Homo sapiens: one gene and its partners. The protein of the gene in region 2 purifies or fractionates together with the protein of the main gene of each other region. This does not show direct contact. Each region holds a gene or a part of one and is shown on either strand. Other genes may lie near its edges.

Region 1 (8,521 bases), on a different chromosome or scaffold from region 2:
GAAGAAAATGGGCCTAGCATTTCCCTCTCTGGAAAGGTCATCAGAATTGTGGCTGTAAGACTGAGTTGGCCTAAAGTGTTCTCTTTTTGAAATGCGATTATTTGAGAGTTTACAGGCTACATTCAGCTGGGTGCCCATTCTGTCTGTCTTGGATAATTCCTTGACAGTACTAGATTGGCATGGACTTCCTTTTCTTTCAAAGAACACGGTGACAGGTCGGTCCTTTGGGGGTAAGTGAGCAGAGGAACTGTCTTTTTGGGCAAGAGCTGCATCTTTTAATGATAGGGACCCCAGTACATTAAGTTCTCCCTTATTTGAGGTATTTAAGCTGAGGAGAGAGGATGGCCTCTCTACTCTTTGCTTTGACTGATAGGAAGATGGTGCCACCAAACACTCTCCAATTCTTGGCTTTTCAATTGTCTTGAAGGCTTTGCGCTCCTTCTCTAAAATATCTGTTTGCTGGCGAATCTGTTCCATCATCTCTTTTTCATTCTGTTGCTGCAACTGTTTTTGCCTTTCTTCCTTCTCAGTGTTTAGCTTTTCTAACTTCTTAAGCACAGGATTAGAAGACTCTGTATTCAAAGAAGGAACAATCTGATCTTTTCCTGAGCAGTGATACCTTCTAGTTTCCCTGTTGATATCCAAAGTAAGAGCTTCCCCCGCTGTGTCTTCATTTTCCAATAGTTTGTTTCTTTGGATACTTGTGTCTAGTTGGGAATTTGTTTTCAGTGGGTCTTGTTGGGGGATATAAAAAAAAGTAGGTAGACTATTTGAAATGAAGGAGTCTTTCAGCTGTGGTTTACAGGTAATAGACTCAGAACTGCAGACCACCATTTCCTTCATAGTTCCATCCTTCAAATGCTCTGCACTGCTAGTCTCATTTGAGGCACTGAGGGCATTGTCCCGTGAATCAAATTTTGGACTGCTGGATATCTTAGGTGATGGAAACTGCAAGTCTCCTTCATCTGAAATGACAGACTCTAGTTTGCTCTTTTGGCTTTCCTCATAGCTCAGAAGTTCCAAGCTTCCTTGAGAGCTCTCACTATCAGGTGTACCCCGTGGAGACTGAAGGCCTTCAGGCACCAATTCTGTAGACCATCTGCGATCCTCTGAAGGAGAAATACCACCAAGAGAACGAACTTTCAGCAATTCTAAGCTAAATATAGCTTGCTCTAGTTCTCTCATTCTCCTACTTTCTCTCTTAGCCCGGCCTACTTTTTTCTGATGGAGATCCTCCAAGGATCTGGGTCTCTCTCTTACAAGCACATCTTCCTGCAAGTCCACACCACTCTGGCTTTGGGCTCTCTCCTGCTGCTTGTTTGGTGACTCCTTCAAGCAGTCCACTGAACTTTCACGGCTAATTCGATTACTCTCTATTACAGATTTACATTCCTCTATGGCTTTTATTCTGTTGTCAAAAGAACAATCCTCCCATCCTGAAGGGTCTGAACCCTGAATTTCCAGAGATCCATATCCCTTAATATTCACCAATCCAACTTCTGGCTTTGTTTCTCTTAGCCTTTGTTCTTTTAAAGCTTTAAATCTATATAAAAACAGACAAAATGGGTTATAGAAATATCTTAGTTACCACTGAAAATAACATATTTCCTGAGAATTTAAGAAAAAATGCAGAGTTGTAAAATCTTTTTATAATACCTAAGTTCTTCTTAAACTAACTTGAATGCACATTTCATAATTTTCCTATTTCCATGAGTCAGATGATATTTCATTAAGTGTATTACTTCTACCTAGGCATTTCAGTCAAAATGTAAACTAATTCAGAAGTAAAGCTCTCATTTTAATAATGCCTTTATTTTAAAGTAAACCTCAAATTAAAGTGAAATTTTAAGTGTGAAATTAAAGTGAAATTTTAATTTAAGTGTGAAATTAAAGTTTCTGAAAGTAACAACAGTTGAATATTGCCAATTTTATAAGATTCAGCCTAATGTAGAAGTTAATTCTTAGCAGTTATGATCACAGACCATGTAGATTTTCAATCCAATTTAATTCAATAAAACCTTATTTAACTTCCATTATAGACAATACAATGTGGGTTAAAATCGGTATCACAGTATAGTGGAAAAGACAAATTGTATACAACCAATTCTAATACAAATTAGACAAGTGTTAATGCAGAGGTATAAACAAAGTACTTGGGAAGAAGAAAAAAAGCAATTATTATAGTAATAGAGATTACCTTTGTCTTGCTCTGAATCCTCTACATGTTGATTGCAAAAGGATAATTTTTTTCCTTTGTTCTTGGTACCTTTTACTTTCCCTGTAGGCTTTCCATCTTGCTTGTATGCAAATAGCAGCCATGTGCCTGCGCCTATAGTAATCTCTCCATTTCTGCTGGATAACGATGGCTGCAGCCCGTAACTCCAAGTACCGCTGCCTCTCTAAGTGAGCACGCCAGGAAGCTTGGAGAAGAGCAGCTGCACTAGCCATAACAAAAGCATCCTTCTGCACAGCTGCATCTCTGACTTGCTTCTGATTTAGGTAATTCCTCCAGAATCTCTATGGGGAAGACAAAATAACAGAAACTGGTTGTCATATCTTACACTGCATTTTCACAGGAAAAAAAGAGAATAAATTTCTTATGTCATAATTACAGGTTAAGTGGCTATGCAGCTAAATTCTTGGTGATTAAAAATAAGTTTTCTGGCCAGGTGCGGTGGCTCATGCCTGTAATCCCAGCACTTTTGGAGGCTAAGGCAGGCAGATCATGAGGTCAGGAGATAGAGACCAACCTGGCTAACATGGTGAAACCCCGTCTCTACTAAAAATACAAAAAAAATTAGCTGGGCGTGGTGGTGGGTGCCTATAGTCCCAGCTACTCAGGAGGCTGAGGCAGGAGAATGGCGTGAACCTGGGAGCTGGAGCTTGCAGTGAGCAGAATTCACGCCACTGCACTCCAGCCTGGGTGACAGAGTGAGACTCTGTCTCAAAAAAATAAAAATAAAAAAACTAGTTTTCTACAAAAGCAGAAAGTGTACCTGAAAAAGATAAATAGAAAAAAGTTTTCTCTTCCAGATATGTTTGGCTAAAACAGCTATTTTAAATAATATAACCTTGAAGAAGTTAATTACAGAACCTAATTTAAAATTTTTGGATGATTTCATGTCCTTCAAATTATTAGTAACTTTAACATATTATATTCTTTTGTTACAATTTTCCTAAATAACACTAATGGGTTTAAGGTAATCCTGACACACATTCCAAAGATGAAGATACTAAAGATTTTCTTGCACAAATGGAAAAGATCTTATGGAAATGATATAAATCAATGAGGGAGTTAATAAAACAAATAAAATGTAAAATAAGGTACCTATCATCCAAAATGAGTGTCTAAAACCAACGGTATATATACAACTCTCAAACATCACTCCAAAAACTATTAAATAAAAACAACTATGTCAACAAATATTAGGTAACTCCTTAGCCCCTACACAGATCTCACAAGACATTATAACTACAAATTCAATTTAATTTAAATTCAATGGAATCAATATTTATTAATAGTCTATTATATGCCAGATAATCTGTTGGGTGTTATGAGCACTTCAAAATTGGGTACGACATATTCTCATTTCTGAAGTTCACATTATTACTGAAAATGTTTTACAGTAAAAAGGTTCTGGTTACTAAACAAAGGCCAAATAAACTAGTCAATCTCATGCAAAGAATCCTTTGCTTCTCACCTGGATAATAACAGATGCTTGTCTCAGATGGAGGAAATGCTGCCTACACAGCAAGACCCTGAACCATCGCTGCAACAATATGATTCTGCGGAGCACCTCTTGGTGAAGCAGATCTTGTAAGTGCTGTCGTTCCTGCTCCTTTAGAAAGACCTACCAAAAGGAAGAAAGATGAGGAATGCAGCTTAAGAAGAAATGAGAAATTTATTTCATGAATCATCCTTTCTGTGATAAGCTTTTAGAGAAGAACAAACACAGTGGCAGGCATGTAAATGAAGTACTGATAAATATTCCTACAGATTTATCCAAAGTAGTCATTCTCAAATTGAAATGGAGATAGTAGAATACGGAAGGTGAGCTGGGTGTGGTGCTACATGCCTATACTCCTAACTACTGAGAAGGCTGAAACAGGAAGTTTGCTGAAGCCCAGGAGTTCCAGTTCTACGGCAAAATAGAGAGACCTGGTCTCCAAAAAAAAAAAAGACAAAAAAAGGAAGGTAAGGAAGGGAGGAAGGGAGGGAAAAATGACAAGGTGAGCAAGAATATCAAAATTCCAGTGCCAGAGATTATGATACATTAGTCCATTGGGGAAACCACTGCTATGAGTAAATGTATTACTGGTAATAAGTCATATTTTTCAAGCGTGTTGGGATGGGGAAAAAAGTTGAAAACCATAGATCTTGAAGCTTGAATCATATAATGAATAAACCAATGATAACAGTCTTTTTGAAATCCAGCGTGCATTAAAAGCTTCTCACTGTCCAAAGTTATTAATAAGTTTATTTTATTTACTCCTTCATTCCACTAATGTTTAGGGTTTGTGAGGCTGCAAAGGTGAAGGAGACATATCCCTTTAGAAACAGGAATTATACCTCTCATTTGAGAGCAGGTAGATATTATATACCCGAAGAGGAAGATGGTAAACTAATAAGGGCCAGAGACAAAAGATCCCACCTGAGTAACACAGAGAGTTGAAAATAATAATAAAGGCATGCACAGGAGACAACGGGACAATTAATCTCCATAAAAAAGATATTAAGTAATGTGAAGCCACAATATGAAGGTTCTCAAAAAAGAGAAAGATGTTTGGATTTAATGAGGAGGTTATCAGGAGGTTATTATCAAGCAGGAGGCAGACATAAAGAACTAAGTATATTAAGATAATAATTTTAATATTATGAGTAGAATAAATTAAATGGAATGACAAATATACTAGAATCAGATAAGTAAGCTGTTCACTGTATAAGCAATGTAGATGAGAAGAGATAAGGAATAAAAATAAAATGGAAGCAGTAGTAATGGAGAAACAGAAAGCGATGTAAGAATCTCTTTGTAAAAGGAAAAAAAATCCCTAAAACTTTGTGAAAGGATTAAAGTGAACGGTATGCCAAAGACAATTATGGTTTCTAGACTGAGAAACTGGAAAAAGGGTGACAGAGAAAGAAAGTATTTGATAAATTTAAGAACAGATGAATCTGGATATGGTCACCTTGGGCAAGCTGGCTTGGAGATTACAGTAGAGTATCTATGGAGAGATGATTTTTAGGCAGTTAAAATTATAGTCAGAACTAGAGCACTGGCCAGAGCTCTGTGATTAATATTGACTACATAATTAAATAAAAACCTGGGCCTAACCAATTGTCTTCTGATATCTGATTCACTATCTTTTTAATAAACAATCTCATAGGCAAAAATTATTATTTTTTAAATAAATGCACTCAATTTTGACCAGAGCTATACAGATTATATTTACCATGGTTTTTCCAACTTGATAATTATCTGGATTAAGATTTATTTTCCTGAAGAAATCCTGAATGTTAAATTTGGATGGAATAATATTTCGGGGAAGAAGTACATGGAAGTGGCTCACAAAATCCTGAAAAATAATTTAAAAATATTGTAAAATCAGAAAACAGTGTATGTAAACAAGACCTTAAACTAATTATCATTCTATTAATCTTTTCTCTTTCTTTTAAACAGGGTGAAACCAAGACGTGCATGTTAATTTAAGATATGATAAAAGGTTAATTCGGAAAACATAGGAGGTGGAGAAAGATATTGGGTTCTACATATCATGACATCAAAAGGGAATGAGAGAAAAAAAAGGCAGAGGCTAATTATCCCTTTTGAGAAAGCTTTATAAAAGACCAAAGAAAAGGGTATTTAACAAGACCCTAAAATTTCTATCAGGAAAAAAAAAGCAAACGTGGCAGGATGGGGACAGGGTATCACTGAGAATGAGGCTTTCCGTCCCAGTAACAGCAAAGACTTGCTCAGTTGCTGAACAGCTTCAATATAGTTTCCATACCCATAGCAGCAATTGCTGATACGAGTAGCTGTGAGCCTTGCTGGCAGCTTACTATGAAAGAAAATCCTGCTGAGAAAACTTTAGGGAAAACCAAATAGAATCTTTTCACTAGATAATTCTCATTGAACTATTTCAGTTACTGGAGAGGTCAGTGCAAAGAATTGTTATATCAGGAGTAAATTTAGTATTAGCAAACATTCCGAGCAAATGAGAATAGCCAAGTACTGGATTCTATTACAATAAGCTTAATGAGATTGCTGCCATTCAATCAAAGTAAATACTGTCTATCCCTTTTCAATTCCGTATACAAAACGTGAAATGGAAAGGAAGAATTAAGGAAAATAAGTAAGCCCCAAAGAAATAATAAGCAAGATATGTGGGAATCATTTACTTGATGTGTCTAAATATGTAAATATCACTATAAAAACAGAACCTGGAAAGAATATTTGGAGCTGTATCCTGATTGGCGAATTCGAACTGTTTCCAGCATCCCGGTGTATCGAAGCTGTCTAAGTACCAAGACATCACTGAACCTTAAGGGCAGCTAAAGCAAATGGAAAAAAGATTAACCCAGAACAGTAGATCTCCAAATTAATTATCTGTTTATAAGCATGACTAACTGTTGAGTATCTAGAGATTGACTGGAGGTTGTCTGGTTAACATATACAGTAACTAAGTATATTAAGGCAAGCTCACCTCTCAGCTGGTAGCTTCAGAAAAGTTCTGACTGCCCAACCCTAGGGAAAAGAGAGAAACCAAGCTTCCAGGCTTCTCTGGTTGTGAAGAGAGAGGACCTTAAAGGCTCAAAAAGAATGTAGTCACCCACAGAGGCCACATAGTCCAATCACTACAAAATCTGTAACAAGATAACCTACAACTGGGTGTAGTGGCTCACGCCTATAATCCTAGCACTTTGGGAGGCCAAGGTGGGCTGATCACCTGAGGTCAGGAGTTCAAGACCAGCCTGGCCAACATGGCAAATCCTTGTCTCTACTAAAAATACAAAAATTAGCCGGGCGTGGTGGTGCACACCTGTAGTCCCAGCTACTCAGGAGGCTGAGGCAGGAGAACTGCTTGAAACCAGGAGGCGGAGATTACAGTGAGCTGAGATCATGCCACTGCACTCCAGCCTAGGTGACACAGTGAGACTCTGCCTCAAAACAAAAACAAAAACAAAAAAGAAAATTCTTTTCTGACAGGACTTCAAGAGGTATTTGCTTCTCAAATTCTGGGTGATGCTAAATCAAATCCAAATAAACACCTTACAGGCAGGGAAGTGTGGAAAAATCCATTTAAAGTGTTTATAACATACTATTTTCCTTATAAATATTATAGTTAGTGCTTCCCCTCCACTTATTCTGCTTAAAAGTATTTAAAGCTCAGTTTGAAGTAAGCTGAGATATGTGCTCTCATTTATAGGACATTTTTACCTTTTCAGCATTAGAGCGAATGCATTTTACAAAATATGGTTCTGCTTGACCAAGTGTTTCCATTAGCTTGCTTAATGATGCCTGCAACAGAAAGCAATATAATTATCATACTCTTCCATTCCAAACTATTAACAAATAATTTATAACTATAATCAACATGCTGGCAAAACATTCAAAAAGTAGAGGTACACATAGAAAGAGGTTTTTGAAAAGCACATTGTGTATATTCTCATACTGGTTAAATTATGGATAATTAAGGATAAAGATGGTAGTTTAATATTAAAGCAGATAGCCTGGAAATAGTAAATATTGCAGATGTTTTCAGAACAATCAAATATAGAATTTTTTTCACTTTTCTTCACATTTCATCAAACAATTTTATTCAAACTCATGTATCCTACAACTTTTAAAATGATTCAGGAGGGTATCCAGTAAGGTAGTAAGCCCTTGCTTTACTTTAAATGTCTACAAAGTATGTAATGATATCCCTTTTTTTATTCCTGATAATGGTAATTTGCACATTCTCTCTTTCTTCCTGATTAGTGGCTAGAAATTTATCAACTTTTTGATTTGCTCAGCCCAGGCATGGTGGCTCACGCCTATAATCCCAGCATTTTGGAGGGCCAAGGAGGGCAGGATCACCTGAGGTCAGAAGTTTGAGACCAGCCTGGCCAACATGGTGAAACCCCATCTCTACTAAAAAATACAAAAATTAGCCAGGCGTGGTGGTGCCCGGCTGAGGCATGAGAATTACTTAAACCTGGGAGGTGGAGGTTGCAGTAAGCCAAGATGGTGCCACTGCACTCCAGCCTGCGCAACAAAGTGAGACTCTGTCTCAAAAAAAAAAAAAAAAAAAAAAAAAATTTGGATCTGCTTAAAGAACCAGCTTTTGGTGTCAGTGTTTTGTCTATTTTTCTGTTTTTCATTTCATTGAATTCTGCTGTTATCTTTATTATTTACTTTTCTCTGCTTGTATTGGGTTTCATATATTCTTTTTATAGTTTATCGAGGTAGAAATTTAGATTATTGAATTGAGACATATCTCCTTTTCTAATAAAAGCATTTAGTGCTATAAATTAACCTTG
Region 2 (8,535 bases):
AAACGGATTTTATGATTGACTGCATTGACTAATACAGATCTGGAGAACAATCTGGAAGGAAATGATTAATGACTGCTTCTTTACAAGGAAGTTTAAAAATAAATAACTATAGGCATATCAGAATCAGCATTAACACAGCAATTGCTACTACATGCAGCCAGGTTGTTAATGTTATTTTGGCTTAAATCCATATTCTGGGCAGGATTTAGTACCATGTAGGCAGTTGGGACCTATCAGCTACCAGGGTAATGTCAGTAGGCCCCATTCCATCACACAGGACAAACTACGAACCAAAGAAATATCTATTCCACCTCCTTCATACTTGTCTCTTTTGCTTCTGACTTCAAAAGCAGGGCTAGAAAGACCAGGAAGAAGAGACTGATTATGTTTATATCTGTGGAGCAAAGATTATGCAAACTGCCAGCACTTCATTGTTTTTGTTTTCGGTGTGGTTATCACAGAACAAAAACAAAAAGATAACTTCTACATCTGAAGCCCCATTATTTGAAAACAGACCTGAATATTTCCTCCTCTTTCAATAAAGCAGAAAGCACCCTCCATTTTACTTATCTATGAGGTATTTATTTGTTGATAGGGGACTAGTTACTATTTCTATATGAGAGCTTGACAGAGTCTATCTAAAGAAGCTATTTCCTGAGTTACTCTAGAAACCTCACACTGTTTTGATATTTGCCAAAAATCCAAGATAGCGTGTTTTTTTTTTTTAATTTCTCCACCTTCCATACCCCTCAGGGCTAAAAAGAGAAAAACATGATCACAAGCATAGTAAATGGTCCGTTAGCACTCTGACCTCTCTGAGTTTCTATTTGTCTTTTGTTCCTTTTTCTTTTAAATACCCTTACTGTTTATTTTTTCCTGTTTACAGAAGTAATGCATGGTCATTGTCACAATTCAAACAACACAAAGATGTATGAAATAAAAATTAATAACCTCCCCTCCTCCAAACTCTCAGTCTTCTCTCAAGGAAGCCAATGTTAACAGTCTGGTATATATTCTTTTTTACTTATTCCTAGGCTTACACAAATATTTATAACATATGTGGCTTTTCTTGTTTTGTCTTTTGGTTTTCAAGCAAAAATGGGATATTACATGTACTATCATGCATTTTGCCTTTTAGTCTTAAAAATATGCCATGGACACTTTCCAAGCCTATATATAGATCCACAGAATACTCTTTTAGTGGCTGTGAAGTATTCCATGAGACAAATGTCCCATAATTCATTCAACCATCACCCTGAGTCTCCCAACTTATTAACATTTAGCATAGATCTTCGTGCATATACTACTTCATGACCTTTCACTTCAGTGACAGATTTTTAGAAGTGAGGTTTCTAGGTCGAGTGAAACATTTCCAAGTGTCTCAAATTTTATATTTAAACAAAATTAATTTTAGGCCTTGGGAATTTCTGTTCTCTTCATTATGCAAAATTTTGTTATCTACCTTTCACAATGCTTTACATATTTTATTCTTAAAAGCACACACATTATGTCAAAAAATGCCCCTGTCATTTATGCTTGTGTAGTTATAAATAAATAAATGCTTAAGTTATGGCTGTGATGTCCAGTGTTAAATCACTGTGCAAATGCTTATGCCTTGGTTTATGAAAGTAGTAATTCATTGTGGAAACCCCACCCCCACAGCCATGTGGCAGCACTAGAGTTGCAGCCCTCACATCCTGTGACTCCCTCCCACAGAGTGACTATATAGAGATCAGGACCTCCATTTTTTCTAATTGTCAACAGTTAACCTTAAAAAGTGTGTGGTGGGGGAGACAAATAGCAACAAACAACAAATTGATGGCCATTTTGGGTTTCTAATATGGACAGATTATTTGTAACACAATGAATAATCCTCCTGGTCTACACCAGCGACTGTGTTCCAAAAGAAATAAAACTTGTAACCAATATATTGCTATTATTATTACAGGAACCTTTAAAAAACATATCTTCAAACATTTTTCAATAGAATTACTGGATGAATCACACTTTACATTTTTTTCTCTACTTCAGATTCAAGTTCTAATTGCAAACTTAAAAAAAAAAGCCTTAAAGAAATACATTAACCAACGAAGCTCCTTATAATTTGGTTTCAGACTCCTCCATATATTTTAAAGACCTGAGCACCAACAGAGATTGTTAAGATACAGCAAGCTTGATACAGAAGTATGCGACATGCAATTAATCTCCATTCATACCCCGCTCTACTTGTCAGCAAACAAAGGTTCTGCTTTAGAAGGAGATCTGAAGACTTCAATTAAAAACAGTCAGCTAACAAGAAAATAATCTAAGCTAAAGGAAGGTGGCAGGTGCAGAAATGAGTTGTTTACCAAAGTGTCAGTTTTGAACAATGAAGAACTGCACATCAAAAATGCTGAAGGAATGGATTTCATTGCAAGCCTCTGAAAATAAAAAGGAATTTTCTACCAAGCCTAGACACAAAACTGAAGTATAGTTTAATAAGCTTATAAAATAGGTTTCCTCTCATCAAATGACAGATACCAATAAAAAGAATCAGTTTATATATTTCAATGCAAGGGCAGAGTTAAACTTTTTGCCACAGTCCCTTCTTTCCTAGAAACCAAAGACAATTACAGCCTTCCTTCACAAGCCTAATATTAAACCAACAACAGAGGGAAAGGCTGGATTGTTTCTTCTTAGACACCCAGATAATTCTCTTTTACCCTGCAAATAGTTTTCTACCCCCAAAATTTAGATTTATTCTGATCGTAAGTAAAACGGATTTTGGAAACCTCACCTCAAAAGAAATATCTAGCTGACAGCTTTTACATAGAAGCAATCCAGAATGGAAATAGTGCTACAGACAGAGACCAAAAGGACTTGCCAAATATTTGATTAGGAGGCATTTATACCGAGATAACAAGGTAATGGAGATATAAAACCAATTAAATTGAGAGAAACTGAAAAAAAATACTGCTTGCCAAAAATATGACCTGCCCAAAGCAGGCCGTCTGTTAAATATGTGTCAACTATGTCAACTTAGATGCCAAAAGGCTTAATTCTGAATAGTTTCCTCCTGGGAGCCTTATGCGACTGCAGATTCCAGGCCTCTGTCCTCCCTGGAAGGTTAGTTACAGGAAAGCAAGTAAAAGTGACTTCCACCACGAAACCCAGCAGATGAAACTGCCCGTTAGCAACGTCTCTTTGTGACATCTCTTTGGAGTGTTGGCAGTGTGTGTTGAGTGTTGACGGGGATGGCCGGAACTCTTTAAACCACCGCTTAGACACTGTAGTTGGAAGGTGAACACACCACAATGGGAGTTGGAAGGTGAACACACCACAATGGGGGCACTTCTAGAAAAGGAGGAAATCCCATACTGAGAATGAGCCTGCCTTGGGGTGGGTGAGACCCCTAGACGTCTGCAGGGTGATAAAGGGAGGGCTGGGGTTTTCGCACTGACAAAAACTCACGTCAACCACCTGGCCTTGGCCCATGGGGATCCCATGAGCCCCTCGCAGCCCCCTGGAGAGCCTCGGGGACCTCTAAGCAGGAAGGTTTGGGGTCTTCTGTGAGAGGTGAGGAAGTCGTGGCTGGGGAAGGAGGGGGACGGGAAACCCTACAGATGTAGGGCAGTCCTTTGGAGAAAGGGACAGGTCGGAGACCAGGCAAGGTGGCATGGGGGACCAAGAACCTGGCCTGAGGACTTTAGAAGCCGGGGAGGTGAAGTGGAGGCGTGGAGGTGCCTCAAGGCAAAAGAAGATGTGGGACTCCAGGGAGTGAAAGGGGCCCTGAGGTGAGAGGATGGAAAGCTGGCTCTAGGGAGTTGAGGGCTCTAGAAGCCTTAAGGTTCTAGAAGGAGGTGAGTGACGAAGCCGTAAAGAAAGCCTGGCCGTGGGAGGCCTGGTGTCCCCTTTCGGCCTTCGGCTCAGCACTGGAGGGGGCCTGCGCCAGGGCGTTACCTTCCAGGAGCCAACGGATCTCCTCAGGGAGGGCGGCGGCCTGCATTTGGCTGGGCGGGAGAGAGGCGGGACGGGGCGCGGGCCCTGGTCGGGAGGCGGACGGGCTGGAAGGCGACCCGGCTGCACCGCGAGGCACCTGTACCTCAGCCGCGGTCGCCGCCCGCCCAGCCCGGCCGCGGGGCGGGGCCGTGGGTCCCCGGGCGCGTCAGGAAGTGGCGCGGGCGGCAGGCGGGGACCGGAACGGGGCGCGGGGCGTGGGTGCACGTGGCGCTCACGCCGGAGCCCCACGGTAGAAGGATTGGGGGTGCCGGAAGCACCGCACCGTGCGAGGCCAAAGGTGCGCCCCTCCAGCACCCACCAAAACAAAAGACTTCACAAGGCTCAAAGGACCCACGGCTTTGGACACTCCATCCTAAGCACCGAACAGTTGACCTCACGGTGGCAGATTTGAAAGACCACGGGGTGCCTGAAGTAGGGTGCAGGGAGGCAGAATCCAAGGAAGAGATCCCCGTCAAGCATAGCACCCCTCAATTGCCGGTCCAGTTCACATCTCCATCCCCAGAAAAGAGGGCAAAACTTCGCTCTTTGGGAAGCCACAATGTTGAAAGGAAATGATTAATTCCCAATAAGCAATATAAGGACACCAACATTTGGGAGAATCGCGGCAGCGTGGCAGCAAGGGACACAGGAAACCAAACTGTGCTGTTCTCCCTCAGGATGGAAAGGCCCTGAGGAAAGGAAGGGGTAACACAGGGAGAAAGCTGAGGGAGAGGAGAACAGAGCCCTTTCCCTCCAGGAGCTGCGGAAGGGAGGAAAGTGAAGGACAAAATCACACGGTCTCATTCAAGGGACAGTTGGTGTCAGTGTCCTGGTTGTGACATGGTACTGTAATAGTGCCAGATGTTACCCTTGGGGGAAACTGGGTAAAGGTAGACAGAGTTCCTCTATTATTTCTGAAACTCTCTGTGAATCTATAATTCTCAAAATAAAGAGGTTTTTTAAGTACAATAGGTCAACTGCCATGAAAAAAGTATAAAGTGCTATGGTTGATAAAAGAAGGGAGCTGAATACCAGAAAAGGAGGGAAGAGGCCAGGCATTGTGGCTCACACCTGTAATCACAGCACTTTGGGAGGCTGAAGCAGGAGGATCACTTGAGCCCAGGAATCTGAGGTTACAGCCAACTATGATCACCCCAGTGTACCCCAGCCTGGGCAACAGAGCAAGACCCTGTCTCTTAAAAAAGAAAGAAAATAAAAAGAAGTGCCAGTGTGCATGTGAGTGTTTAAAGGTGCATGTGGTGTTTGAGATGGGCTCTGAAAAACACACCAGACTTTGAAGGGGCAGAGGACTTTCCAGGTGGAAGGACCAGAGTAAAGAAAGATGGAAGAGCCCTCACCAGCTTGAGGAATAGTTAGTAGCCCTCTTTTACTGGATGTTGTAGAAAGACTATGGTTGTCAAGATAAACTGCAGCTCTACTGTGAAGGGACTTGAAAGTCAGAATAGGAATGTTGAACTTAATTGAGAGGGCACTGGGGAGCCATTGACAATTTTTGAGATTGGGAATGACCTAACCAGAGCTCCGGGGTGGTATGTGGCCTCACACATCTCCACCTCTGCCTTTTTCCTTCTTTGTAAAAAATGGCATTTCTATTCTCAGACTCAACCTACAGAATATGTAGAAAAGATTAGGAGTGGTGGGAAAAGACACAGGGGGAAGTGGGTAAAATGGTTTTTACAACAGCCATAAGGGGAATAATGATGGACTCAATCTAGCAGACGGGGCAAGAGCAGTAAGAAGAAACCATCGAGAAGGATGAGTGTGATAAAAGTGCCTGCCTCCTTGTACTGTTTCCCATCCAGAGATACAGCCTCAAAGATGAGGGTGTGATCCTTTAAGGAGTACAGTGCATCCTGCCATCTGAAAAGCAGTGGTGCATTGGTTTCAGTGTCACATGACCCACCTACAAGCTGCAGTAAATTGGGGTGAGGGGACAGAGGCTGGCATGAGCCTCTCTGGGGTATCTGGCTCCTGCTCATCCTCCTTCCTGCCCTGAGAAAGTATAGTAATGGGTGGCTGGGCACAGTGGCTCACGCCTATAATCCCAGCACTTTGGGAGGCCAAGGCAGGCGGATCACGAGGTCAGGAGTTTGAGGTCAGCCTGACCAATATAGTGAAACCCCGTCTCTACTAATAATACAAAAATTAGCTGGGCATGGTGGTGCACGCCTGTAATCCCAGCTACTCGGGTGGCTGAGGCAGGAGAATCACATGAACCCGGGGGGCGGAGGTTGCAGTGAGCCGAGATCAGGCCATTGCACTCTAGCCTGGGTGACAGGGCAAGACTCCATCTCAAAAAAAAGAAAGAAAGAAAGAAAGAAAGTATAGCAATGGGCAGACTACCCCTTTCAGGCTTGGGATCAAGTACCAGGTACCCCCATGGCATTTTTACCAACTTCACCACTTCACCTATAAAATTGTAGCTGCTCTAGAATCATTTTGAAGTACTTATGAGGCATACTAAAAAGCAAGGAAAGATACATGGGAACTGTCTGTGCTATCATCTCAATTTTTTTTTGGTAAATCTAAACTGTTACACAAAAAATACAGCAAGGGCAGCAAAGTCTCCCCATATGTCAACCTAAACTTTGCCTTGCTTTCCTTCTTGGCAACAGAAGAAAATTTGATAACCTCCCCCTCTTCTTCAAGGATATGGTGTCACATACTAATATAAGCTACCAGCTAATGAATTGTTTGATAAAGAGCAGTAAACCCAGGTAATTGCACTTCTTTGCAGGCTTCACTGCCTGTCATAGCTTACTTACACCAAAAACTCACAGTGTACGTATTCTATATGCATCCTTCCTTACAAGAATCTCTGGGTTTTAGAGAGACAGGGGTAGAGGGAGGTGCACAGTCGGGTAGTATGTAGTGAGTGACTGGCAGATTCCAATACGGTATTGTCATGTTGCATCAAGGTTCCTCATTGCAGACAGAAATCTGCCTCCACACATGAACGCAGCCCTTCCTTAATCATCTGAGGACCCTGTTTCAGCAGTCAGCCCCACTCCTAATGACATTCTGTTAAATGGACAAATTCCTTTGAAGCCTTGTCCTTTTTTGAAATCCAATTTCGCAGGAAGCCAAATCTGATTGGGGGTAGCCATGGAAACCACATGGAGGAGTCTTAGAGGAGGTGAAGAGAGGCAAGGCAAAACGTGATAGTCACGAGTCCTTTACTGTTCTGTCAGAAATATCAAAGCAATCTGGAGAGGTTGGCAGTAGCTGAGTCCCTGCCTGGGTCCTGTTCTGTGTGGCTGGGTACTATGTGGCTGTCATGGAAGAAAGCAGCCAGCTGTCTCTGCACACAGGCAGGAGGACAGAACAGAATACACAAATCTCAGGTCTGTCTGCCTCCCTTTTCTTCCCGTCCCCCCCAGACCCAATTCCAGCAAGATCTTAGCATCCTCTTCTTAGCTGCCTGCCCCTTAAAGACAAACAACAAAAGAATGACAAGGTTAAAATACAAGGCCCTCACAGATAAGAGGTCCTTTGGAGCAGAGGCCATGAAATTAATCTGGAATTCCTTGTAATTAGATAAGATAAGGGGATCTAAAGAGATGTAGAACAGCCAGGAATGGAGTCCAGCAGCACAACATGCAGAAAACACACCGCCTTGTCCACCGGGACCCTTCACGCACTGTCAGCAGACAGAAGACACAGAAAATAGGGCCCATATTGGCCTCTGAGCTTCTTGGGAATGCTGTCTACATGTTCTCATGCCAGGTGGGCACTCGCTAAATAGGCATCTATGGGATGTCCAGAGGGACCAATCAGGAAGAAACAAAAGCATCTGGCACCCAGAATGGCATGCAGTGGGAACACAACTGCAAGCAAAGCAGGAGCTGGCTGGCACCGCTCTGCCCTGGCTGAAATGGGTCTGGAGAGGAAACTGCAGAGGGCAGGCTCTGAGGCTTTATTCTGAGCTGGTTATTGATCCCTGAATGCTGGGTCATGACATGTGGCGGAGCTGACGTCTGCCCTATGGATGTGCAGCCACTGCCTCTCAGCCTCTCGGTCCCAACCCCATCAACCGGGTTTATTGACTCTTTTATTGACAATGCTGGGGCCTAATGAGGCCAAGAGCTGCACACTTCATTAAGAGATGTGGAAGGAGAGATGATGCATCCTGTCGGTGCCAAGAACCAGGCTCACTGTATGTTTTGCAAGGCTCCAGAAACCAAGCATCATGCCACCTTGAAGGCAGAGGAGATGGACATAAGATGCTAACTTGGGCACGTTACTTCAGTGGCCTAAAAATGAAGTTTCCACGGCTTGCCAGAAGCCTTGTTCTTACCAATTAGCTAACTCTTCAACTTAGGAGGGTCCTGTTATACACACACTCACACAAATACACTTCCAATGGTCTCCCCTTCCAGCTCACACTCCTAGATTCTCTGCCTTAATACATACAACAAAATAAGCAGCTTCTCATATCACATCAGGAAACAATTCCATAAGCAGGTTCTCAGTGAGGTACAGGCTTGGAACAGTATGAGGGACTATATAAAAACTCAAAAGAATCTTCAAAGGGAG
Region 3 (8,521 bases), on a different chromosome or scaffold from region 2:
CCTTGCCCCAAAAGAAAGTCTCATTAAGTCTGGGTTTGTGCCTTTTTTATGTTGGCTATTAACAGCCACGTCTTTTCCTTTTTCTAAATAGCAAAACACCGAATTGCTCATAAACCGCATTCCAAACCAAAAACTTCAGATATTTTTGAAGCAGATATTGCAAATGATGTGAAATCCAAGGATTTGCTAGCTGATAAAGAACTGTGGGCTCGACTTGAAGAACTAGAGAGACAGGAAGAATTGCTGGGTGAACTTGATAGGTACTTGATGACAAATTATCTTTCCAAGATAATTTGTTTCTATACACATTTCCTCATTAATCTTTTTCTTCATTAATAAAATAATATGTGTTCATTGAAGAAAATGCAGGGAAGCATAATATATTATCAATAATCCTTTCACCTCAAGATGAACATTAATTCTCTGGAATATTTTCTTATAGGATTGTGTGTTTGTGCATATTCCCATGCATGTACATGTACTTAAATACTTAAGATCAACATCTTCATTTTTTATTATGGCCTATTTTATATAATTAATTATACCAGATAGTTGACTTTTAATAATCATGGATTTAATATATATAATGTTAAATTTTAAATGAAGTATTTTTATGCCACACCCAGGATAGTGCTCTATCTTTGAATGTGTTGTGAAAAACAAAAATACACTTTGAATTTAAATTTGATACAGTAAAATGTTTATTCTTGCTTTCCTTTTATAAACTTTGGAGCAGGTAATTTGTAATCTGGTCAGATAGCTATATGTATGAGAAACTTTACGAAATTGCTGTTTGAAATACACATTAGCACACACTTAGAATTGTTAAAATGCTAAATGAAATCTGCTACTCGAGAAGTTCTATATTATTTTGCTTAAATGATGTACCATATGCAATAATTAGTTTCTGTGAAAAATAGGGCAGGAAGCATAAAAGTTTCTTTTTCCTAGTGTTTCACCTATAAATTCTTAGGTCTTTTTGATTAACTAATACTATTCATTTTTTAAAACCAGTTTTGGATCTTGTGATTTTTCTTGGTCATGATTCTCTTTCTATTTTTTGTATGATGTTATTTCAGTTCTGTTGCATTTTCAATTTTGTTATTTTTGTAAGGTCCTCACATCTTTTATAGAATCAAGTATGATAAATGTTCACTCATGCATATAGATATATTCGTGTGCATATGTATAAATCCTTTATTTTTAAAAATTACAATAATACATGCTCATTGTAAAATATTCTGAGTATAGGAGTAGAAAATAAGTGTGTATTATGTGGTTTCAATTTCTGGTCTTTAGAGATAAATGTTCTCTGAATTTCTTACAACTTTATTATTATTGATACTATATTTATATTGCATATGGCCAATATCTTTCTTGCAAAGATAAAAAAATTATCTTCTATATTCTACTTATGTCTGAATAACCTCAATATATAGAAGCAGCATAGGAACTGTTTTTTGTTAATTTATTTCAAAACATTTTTTTGTTTTTGAACTTAGAATTCTAGTTTTAAAAATACTTTATTCAAGATCTTAGTATTTACCCATGGAAACTAACTGGAAATTTAAATAATGTAAAATTCTAGTATGTTTGTTTGATCTTGTTAATTTTCTTCCTTGCTAGTAAGCCTGATACTGTGATTGCAAATGGAGAAGATACGACATCTTCTGAAGAGGAAAAGGAAGATCGTAACACAAATGTGAATGCGATGCATCAAGTAACAGACTCTCATACTCCTTGTCATAAGGATGTTGCAAGTTCAGAACCATTCAGTGGTCAAGTGAATAGTCAGTTGAACTGTTCAGTGAATGGTTCCAGTTCTTACCACAGTGATGATGATGATGATGATGATGATGACGACGACGACGACAACATTGACGACGATGATGGTGATAACGACCATGAGGCTTTAGGGGTTGGAGATAATTCTATACCAACAATATATTTTTCACATACTGTTGAGCCTAAGAGGGTTTGTATACTTTTAACTTTACTAATTTTGCATATAATTTGAACATTAAGCATTATGATATTTTTTAGAAGAGCAATATTAACAATCATTATCATTGTGGATAGTGCCAGACAGGAAAATCATCTTTTGCCTCTTGTTCTGACCAATTTAAGAAGAAAAAGGGAAAAAAAATTTAGTTAGCTGGTATTGGTCCATTGTTCTCTGAAACAATGCATTGTTTGGGGTCTGGAAGGGGATCAGATTTGAGTGGCAACTACTGTAACTTCACCTGTCCTTCATTCAGAGAGTTTTCTTAAGAATCCTGGAGTTAATTATATTGTGGACATTTTGGTGTGCTTAGGATGTTGAAAGTGACTGCATTAGTTAAATTTTTAATTATGCCAGGTTGTTTTCTATGGACATAAAATGAATACTTCATAGGCACAAAGGGAAAATGTAGGAGGAAGTAAAAATTAGTTTCTTTTCTGACAAAGTAAATATAAACATCTGTGGATAATCATGACTTAGAATTTTGGCATTTTAGAGCTGGGGGTGACTGGAGATTTTCTAATACAGAGTTTTAAAGCTTTTCTCTAGTATGAAAAGCCTTTTGTTCCCTCCATACTTACTGTAGAATCCCAGTATTTAAAATAGATCAAAGCAGCTTGGCTCTGATTGAAGGAAGGATAGGCTGCCTTAAGTCCATCTTTGCCCTCTCTCTGCTCCATGTACTGCTCTAAGGGGACACTGGGAATTCGTCTAATTCGTCTTTCTCAGGGAAATTTAAGGCCTAGAAGACATAGATCTGGTTGGTAACAAAACAGGAACTCTTTCGCCTCTGAGTGCCCTTTCTACACAATATCCCGATTGCCTGTATCAGTTAAGGGTCTGTGGTATCATTCTTAAGTGTGTGTGATTATTATTTAGTGAAATATGTTTAAAACATATTTGATATTTCTTAGCTTCCTAAAGTTATTCCTGCTCCTATATGAAGTGAAATAATTGTTTGTGTTTTTATATTCTAATATGTCAGACTGAAGGGGTCTTCCCCTGATTCTTCGGGAAAAGTTGACTGAGATGATTAGCCAGAAAAAAAGGTCGCTTTTTAATCTTTTGCCAGGCTTTTACTTTTTTCCTGTTTTCATTTAGATAAAACAGAAAGAACAAATATTATTTGCAGGAACGTTACAGGTAATAGTGGTCATTATTGTGGAAAGTATGCTCTAAGTGCTGACTAGGGATAGAAAAATAACATGTTAACCCCATGTGAACCCTGAACAGGCTTGGTTTTTATTTTTTTACTCCTTCAATTTCTAAAAATTAGAGATGTTTTAAAAATTCTAAATAGGCATTATTTAATAGTACTTTTATGACTTAAAGGTTGTATTCTTACTGAATTTTTGTTTATACTCTTTCTTTTGAAATACATAATTCAAGCCAAACACTTATATCAAAGGAATGGGGTGATGGGAAGTTTATAAGAAATCTAGCATTTAGTTCAAATGTATTTTGCTTTCTCTACAATAATAAAGACACTGAAGACTAGGATTTGTTAATAAAGAAGATTTTCTTTAGATGTCATAGATCTATGAGATAAGGACTTTTTAAAAAATTCCATCTGATAATGCACATCATTTCAGCATCAGAAAATTTCAGCTGCCTCTCTTACTATTATTTTTTTAGTTATAGAGTTTATTTGTTTTGGTTTCACTTTGATTTAATTTGTCAAAAGATTCTTAATTTCTTGCTCTGAAATTTTAGGTCCGAATAAATACTGGAAAGAATACCACTTTAAAATTCAGTGAAAAGAAAGAAGAAGCCAAACGTAAACGAAAGAACAGCACTGGCAGTGGCCACTCTGCCCAGGAGCTGCCGACCATCAGGACGCCTGCAGACATTTACAGGTGGGAGGCGCTCACAGCTGCAGGGCAGTCTGCTGGGCTTGCCTCTCTTTCTGCCACTGAACCTTTACTGGAGAAAGTTGACTGTAACACAGAAGACCCTCACTGAAAAGTGAAGTGTTCTGAGGAGTTAACTTAGGATCTGATAGGCTGACCGGCTGTAGCTTCCCAGTCCAGAGCAGTGGGAATGGAGGATTTTTTTTTTTTTTCACTTTCTCCTCTTCACCAGTGCTTTTGAAACATTTCCAAATGGTCTAGTCAGAAAATCTTGTATCTTCAGAAAGCATTTTTGTTTCCAGTGGGCTAGGTCCCTACGTTTCTACCACAGCCGTAACATGCTTGGCATGCAGTTTACCTTTTCAGAGTAGAAATTATACTGTTGCAGGTTTTTTTTTTTTTTCCTTTTTTTTGGAATTGTTTGTTGAGAAAACTATCACTTGAAAATACCTACTGTTTTTATGACCCTTATTTATAAATCAGTGAAAATTGCTAAATGTATACGTGGGTCTAAAACTTTATGTAGAATTTTGGCAAACCATGCTATTGCCACCTAGGACATGCTTAAAAATAACATGCTGTGTTTTTGTTCTCACTCATAGGTGGGAATTGAACAATGAGAACACTTGGACACAGGGTGGGGAACACCACACACCGGGGTCTGTCATGGGGTGGGGGGAGGGGGGAAGGATAGCATTAGGAGATACACCTAATGTAAATGATGAGTTAATGGGTGCAGCACACCAACATGGCACATGTATACATATGTAACAAACCTGCACGTTGTGCACATGTACCCTAGAACTTAAAGTATAATAAAATAAATAAATAACATGCTGTGTTTTATTATTAGGCCAGAGAAATAGCTTTCAAAATAGTATGAAGATACCATTTGAGGCTATAAAATTATTGTGATTGTGACTATTTTAGATATAAGATTGTAATAAAAATTTTCAGATTAATTTCTAGAATAGATTCAAGGAAATTTTCAAAAAGTTGTTCTCAGTTTTATGAGTTACGTATAGTGAATGCATATGTGTTTTGAATATCACAGAGCCTTTGTTGATGTTGTGAATGGAGAATATGTCCCTCGCAAATCCATCCTGAAGTCTCGAAGTAGAGAGAATAGTGTGTGTAGCGACACTAGTGAAAGCAGTGCTGCTGAATTTGATGATAGGCGGGGAGTTTTGAGGAGTATCAGCTGCGAAGAAGCCACTTGCAGTGACACCAGTGAGAGCATTTTGGAAGAGGAACCACAAGAAAATCAAAAGAAACTTTTGCCCTTATCAGTAACACCTGAGGTGTGTGTGTGTATCTTTTAATTCTTTATTTCATATAGTATCTTTGACCAGTTTTAGCTATTTAATCTGAAAAGTCATAAGATTAAATTAATTCTAGGTTTTATACTTTCTTGGTACTAATTAATAAAAAATTAATAGTCACAAACAGTACAAATATTGTGATAATCAAATAGTTTATTTTTTGATAAACACATTACTTGTCTTAACGTTCTATTTCAGCAAAATGGGAAATTTAAAATGTCTTACTTGGCATTATGTATTACATTTGTAGCTAGGAAATTATTTCGCAGTTTATTTTAAATAAATTACCAGTAGGTCATTTTCTGATAGTGTAAGGAGCAGATTACATTATTCTCTTTTAAATACCTTGGCTAAGTTAAAGAAAAATAATGCATGCATAGCAGATAATTACCTAAAGTCTAATATTTTACCTTGTACCAGTGAAACTTAACTCTTGGGGGATTATGGAATTGTTTTATAATCTGATGAAAGCTGTAGACCCTGTCCATAGAAAAAATAGTGCACACTCAATACACTTTCACCCACCACACTTCTTACAGTTTTTGGTGGTGGTGCAGGGGAGGTTAGGAAATCCCCAAATAAGGATGTCTGTGAAATATAAGGCTATTGATTTCTTCATTCTTGTGTTTTGGTGCGTATTTGAAGTTTTCAATTTAAAAAGTATTTAGGAAGATTGGGGAACCCATGCCTGGATCAAACCAGTGTACACATTTGTATATACAATAAGATACATGCATATATATAACCTTATCTAAAAATTCCATTGCTTTTACTAAATGGTATTATACTCAGTGTATTAAATGGTAATTGGGGATGGAGATTGGTAGCATTTAGGGACAGTACATATGACTAGAATGTTTTCTTCCCCTCTTCTTAGTATAATGATCTTAGGTGACCTGGAAAGTATCTTACCTTATTTGATAGTCTTCCATACTGTTAGAAAACAGGTAATGGATGTTATCAGGTAATTGCTGATAAATGTTTGAAAATTAGTTTTTTGTAAGGACTTAGTGTATCATGGTACAGCTAGAGTGTGGAACCTATTTTTTATTTCACCCTTAGTAGCTTTGCATTTTGTATGGAAATGTTTAATAGTAGTTGCTATACATTTTTTAACATCAAAGAAATAGTTCATGATTATGGTAAGTACTTTGGAAGATATCCTTTTCAGTATCTTTTTAAATGCTAAAATACCTCTTTTTCAAAGGCATTTTAAATAGAAGAAGGAGAAGAAGGCTCTATGCTCATCGTGATAAAGTGGAGTTTTTAGGAAAGTAAGCTTTAAGCTGCTTTTACCAGTTGAACTCCAAAAATAATGTAGGAGAGAGATGGCTTTCTTTGTTTTTGTTTCAGTGGTGGGGCAAGGTAGAAGAAGGTGGCTTTTTAAATTATTTAGGTGTTACGTTGTTTTAACTAATTTTGAGCACTTGGTAGACAGAGGAGAACAAAATGTACATTAAAGTTCACCTGTCAAATTTTCATTTGTAGAGGGAAGGATGGAGGTTCTAAATACCAGCAATCTTAAAAAAAAAAAAAAAATTAACTCCTTGTGTCTTACCTATTTTTGTATAAAACGACATGTACAGATATTTCCAGCAATTTATGCACATTCTTTAATTCTGTTCCAGTTGAACATATAGTTGACCAGATTAAATGCAGCAAACATCCAGGTGAAATTGAGTCATTTCTTTTTTTGTGGAACTTCTGATTTCTGTCATTGAGTTAATTATATTAAAATTTTGAAACCTGTACTTATTCCTACTAGTATCAGCACTTTTATTTTTCAACTTCCACTGATCTTTTAAAATTGAGGCAATATGCAGTAAAATATTTAAATAATTGCATAAACACCACCAAAGAGATATCAGTTAGAAATGTCAGTACTGGTGAAACTAAGCTATTGGCTAGCAGGCAGCAAGGCCATCATAGGATAGCTCATTCATCAACTGATGTACAAAAGTCAGAGTTTGACACCCTAATAGCATTTTTATTTTAATACATTATTTTTCACAGCATGGGCTGGACATGAATGGAATGTATGAAAGTTTGAAGACCTTTTATTTATCCATTTCTTTTTTTTCCCAGATAAAATTTACATTTTACATTTTGTTTTCTTGCATGTATACTGTAAAAATTACTTCTGTTTGGTGGTGAAATTAAAACTTAATGGTGTTGGTTTCTCTGAACAATTAGTATTTTGGTGTAGTAGTGTTGTCTAGCCAAAAATCTCGTGAATTTACTTTTAATGAAAAGAATTGCCAAATGAGTGAATGGGAAGATTTTGTGGGTGTCTTATTTGCATTTTATTACCATAACCTGACTTTTGTTTTCTAGGCTTTTTCTGGAACTGTTATAGAAAAAGAATTTGTATCACCTTCCTTAACACCACCCCCAGCCATTGCTCATCCCGCACTACCCACTATTCCAGAACGAAAGGAAGTTCTGTTGGAAGCATCTGAAGAAACTGGAAAGAGGGTTTCAAAGTTTAAAGCTGCCAGATTGCAACAGAAAGACTAGGCCCTGTCTAGGAAATGGGAATTTACATCCTAAAACCTAGTTGTTCATTTGTTTAGAGTATCTATAGCAAAATAGGTTACATGTAGTTTGAAATAAGGTATCCTGAGTTACTTTGGCAACAAGTTCTTTTACCCTTACCCGTGGTATTTGAAAAAAATCAAGGTAACTGTCTGAATACTTTAATATCAGCTTGTTTTGTGAATTCTCTGAATACTGTCAACACTCTTATCTAAGTTTGCCTTTATGATGCAGTGGCAGCATTTTGAATTACTTTTCAAAGAATACTGTTCATATGCATTGTTTTTGTGTTTCAAACTAAATACAGGCAGTTTTGTGCCAGCTGTGATATTGTGCATACCATATGGACCATTTTAAAGAAAATTTTAAAATTTCAAATAGATTCAACAATTACATTACTTGCTTTCACATTTTAAAGGCACTTTAAAAAAATCTACTTCTCTTGTAGGTTTTGCGGCTAGTTGGCTATTCAAGAAACCTCGCCCCTCTGAATGTCATACTGTAATCTTTAAGGAAGAAAGCTACATGAATTAATTGTACTCTATGGGAAAATTTCTTTGGAAAGATATTTTGTAAAACTTTTTTTTCCAAGTAAAAACTTTATGAAACTTGGTCTCAAAAATGTTGTGAACTTTATGATTCAAAATTGAGTACAGATATGTCCTTGATTCATATGTATGCTACATGTATCACACAACAGATCTGGAATTCTTTCAGTTCCTCAGATACTTCTCCCTTAGTTTTTGCAGTTTCACTGGGATTATGTTTTGGGAAACAAGGAAAGGTCTAGATGCTTAAACATTTTAAATAAA

The links.
Region 1: the proteins of SKAP1 (region 2) and MYO9A purify together in Homo sapiens (affinity purification with mass spectrometry; 3 studies listed by BioGRID and IntAct, with this or other methods). This does not show direct contact.
Region 3: the proteins of SKAP1 (region 2) and URI1 purify together in Homo sapiens (affinity purification with mass spectrometry; 4 studies listed by BioGRID and IntAct, with this or other methods). This does not show direct contact.

What each region holds. Positions count from the first base shown.
Region 1 is NC_000015.10:71,897,490-71,906,010, forward strand, and holds part of MYO9A (unconventional myosin-IXa), read right to left. Parts: intron 7,518-8,521; coding exon 7,437-7,517; intron 6,551-7,436; coding exon 6,440-6,550; intron 5,575-6,439; coding exon 5,452-5,574; intron 3,852-5,451; coding exon 3,702-3,851; intron 2,518-3,701; coding exon 2,198-2,517; intron 1,544-2,197; coding exon 1-1,543. UniProt on the Homo sapiens protein: Myosins are actin-based motor molecules with ATPase activity. Unconventional myosins serve in intracellular movements. Regulates Rho by stimulating it's GTPase activity in neurons.
Region 2 is NC_000017.11:48,426,136-48,434,670, forward strand, and holds the start of SKAP1 (src kinase-associated phosphoprotein 1), read right to left. Parts: upstream 4,080-8,535; 5' UTR 3,986-4,079; coding exon 3,940-3,985; intron 3,798-3,939; exon of another isoform or gene 3,475-3,797; coding exon of another isoform or gene 3,451-3,474; intron 1-3,450. UniProt on the Homo sapiens protein: Positively regulates T-cell receptor signaling by enhancing the MAP kinase pathway. Required for optimal conjugation between T-cells and antigen-presenting cells by promoting the clustering of integrin ITGAL on the surface of T-cells.
Region 3 is NC_000019.10:30,007,379-30,015,899, forward strand, and holds part of URI1 (unconventional prefoldin RPB5 interactor 1), read left to right. Parts: intron 1-91; coding exon 92-260; intron 261-1,626; coding exon 1,627-1,975; intron 1,976-3,715; coding exon 3,716-3,858; intron 3,859-4,906; coding exon 4,907-5,153; intron 5,154-7,508; coding exon 7,509-7,691; 3' UTR 7,692-8,157; coding exon of another isoform or gene 8,158-8,214; 3' UTR 8,215-8,521. UniProt on the Homo sapiens protein: Involved in gene transcription regulation. Acts as a transcriptional repressor in concert with the corepressor UXT to regulate androgen receptor (AR) transcription.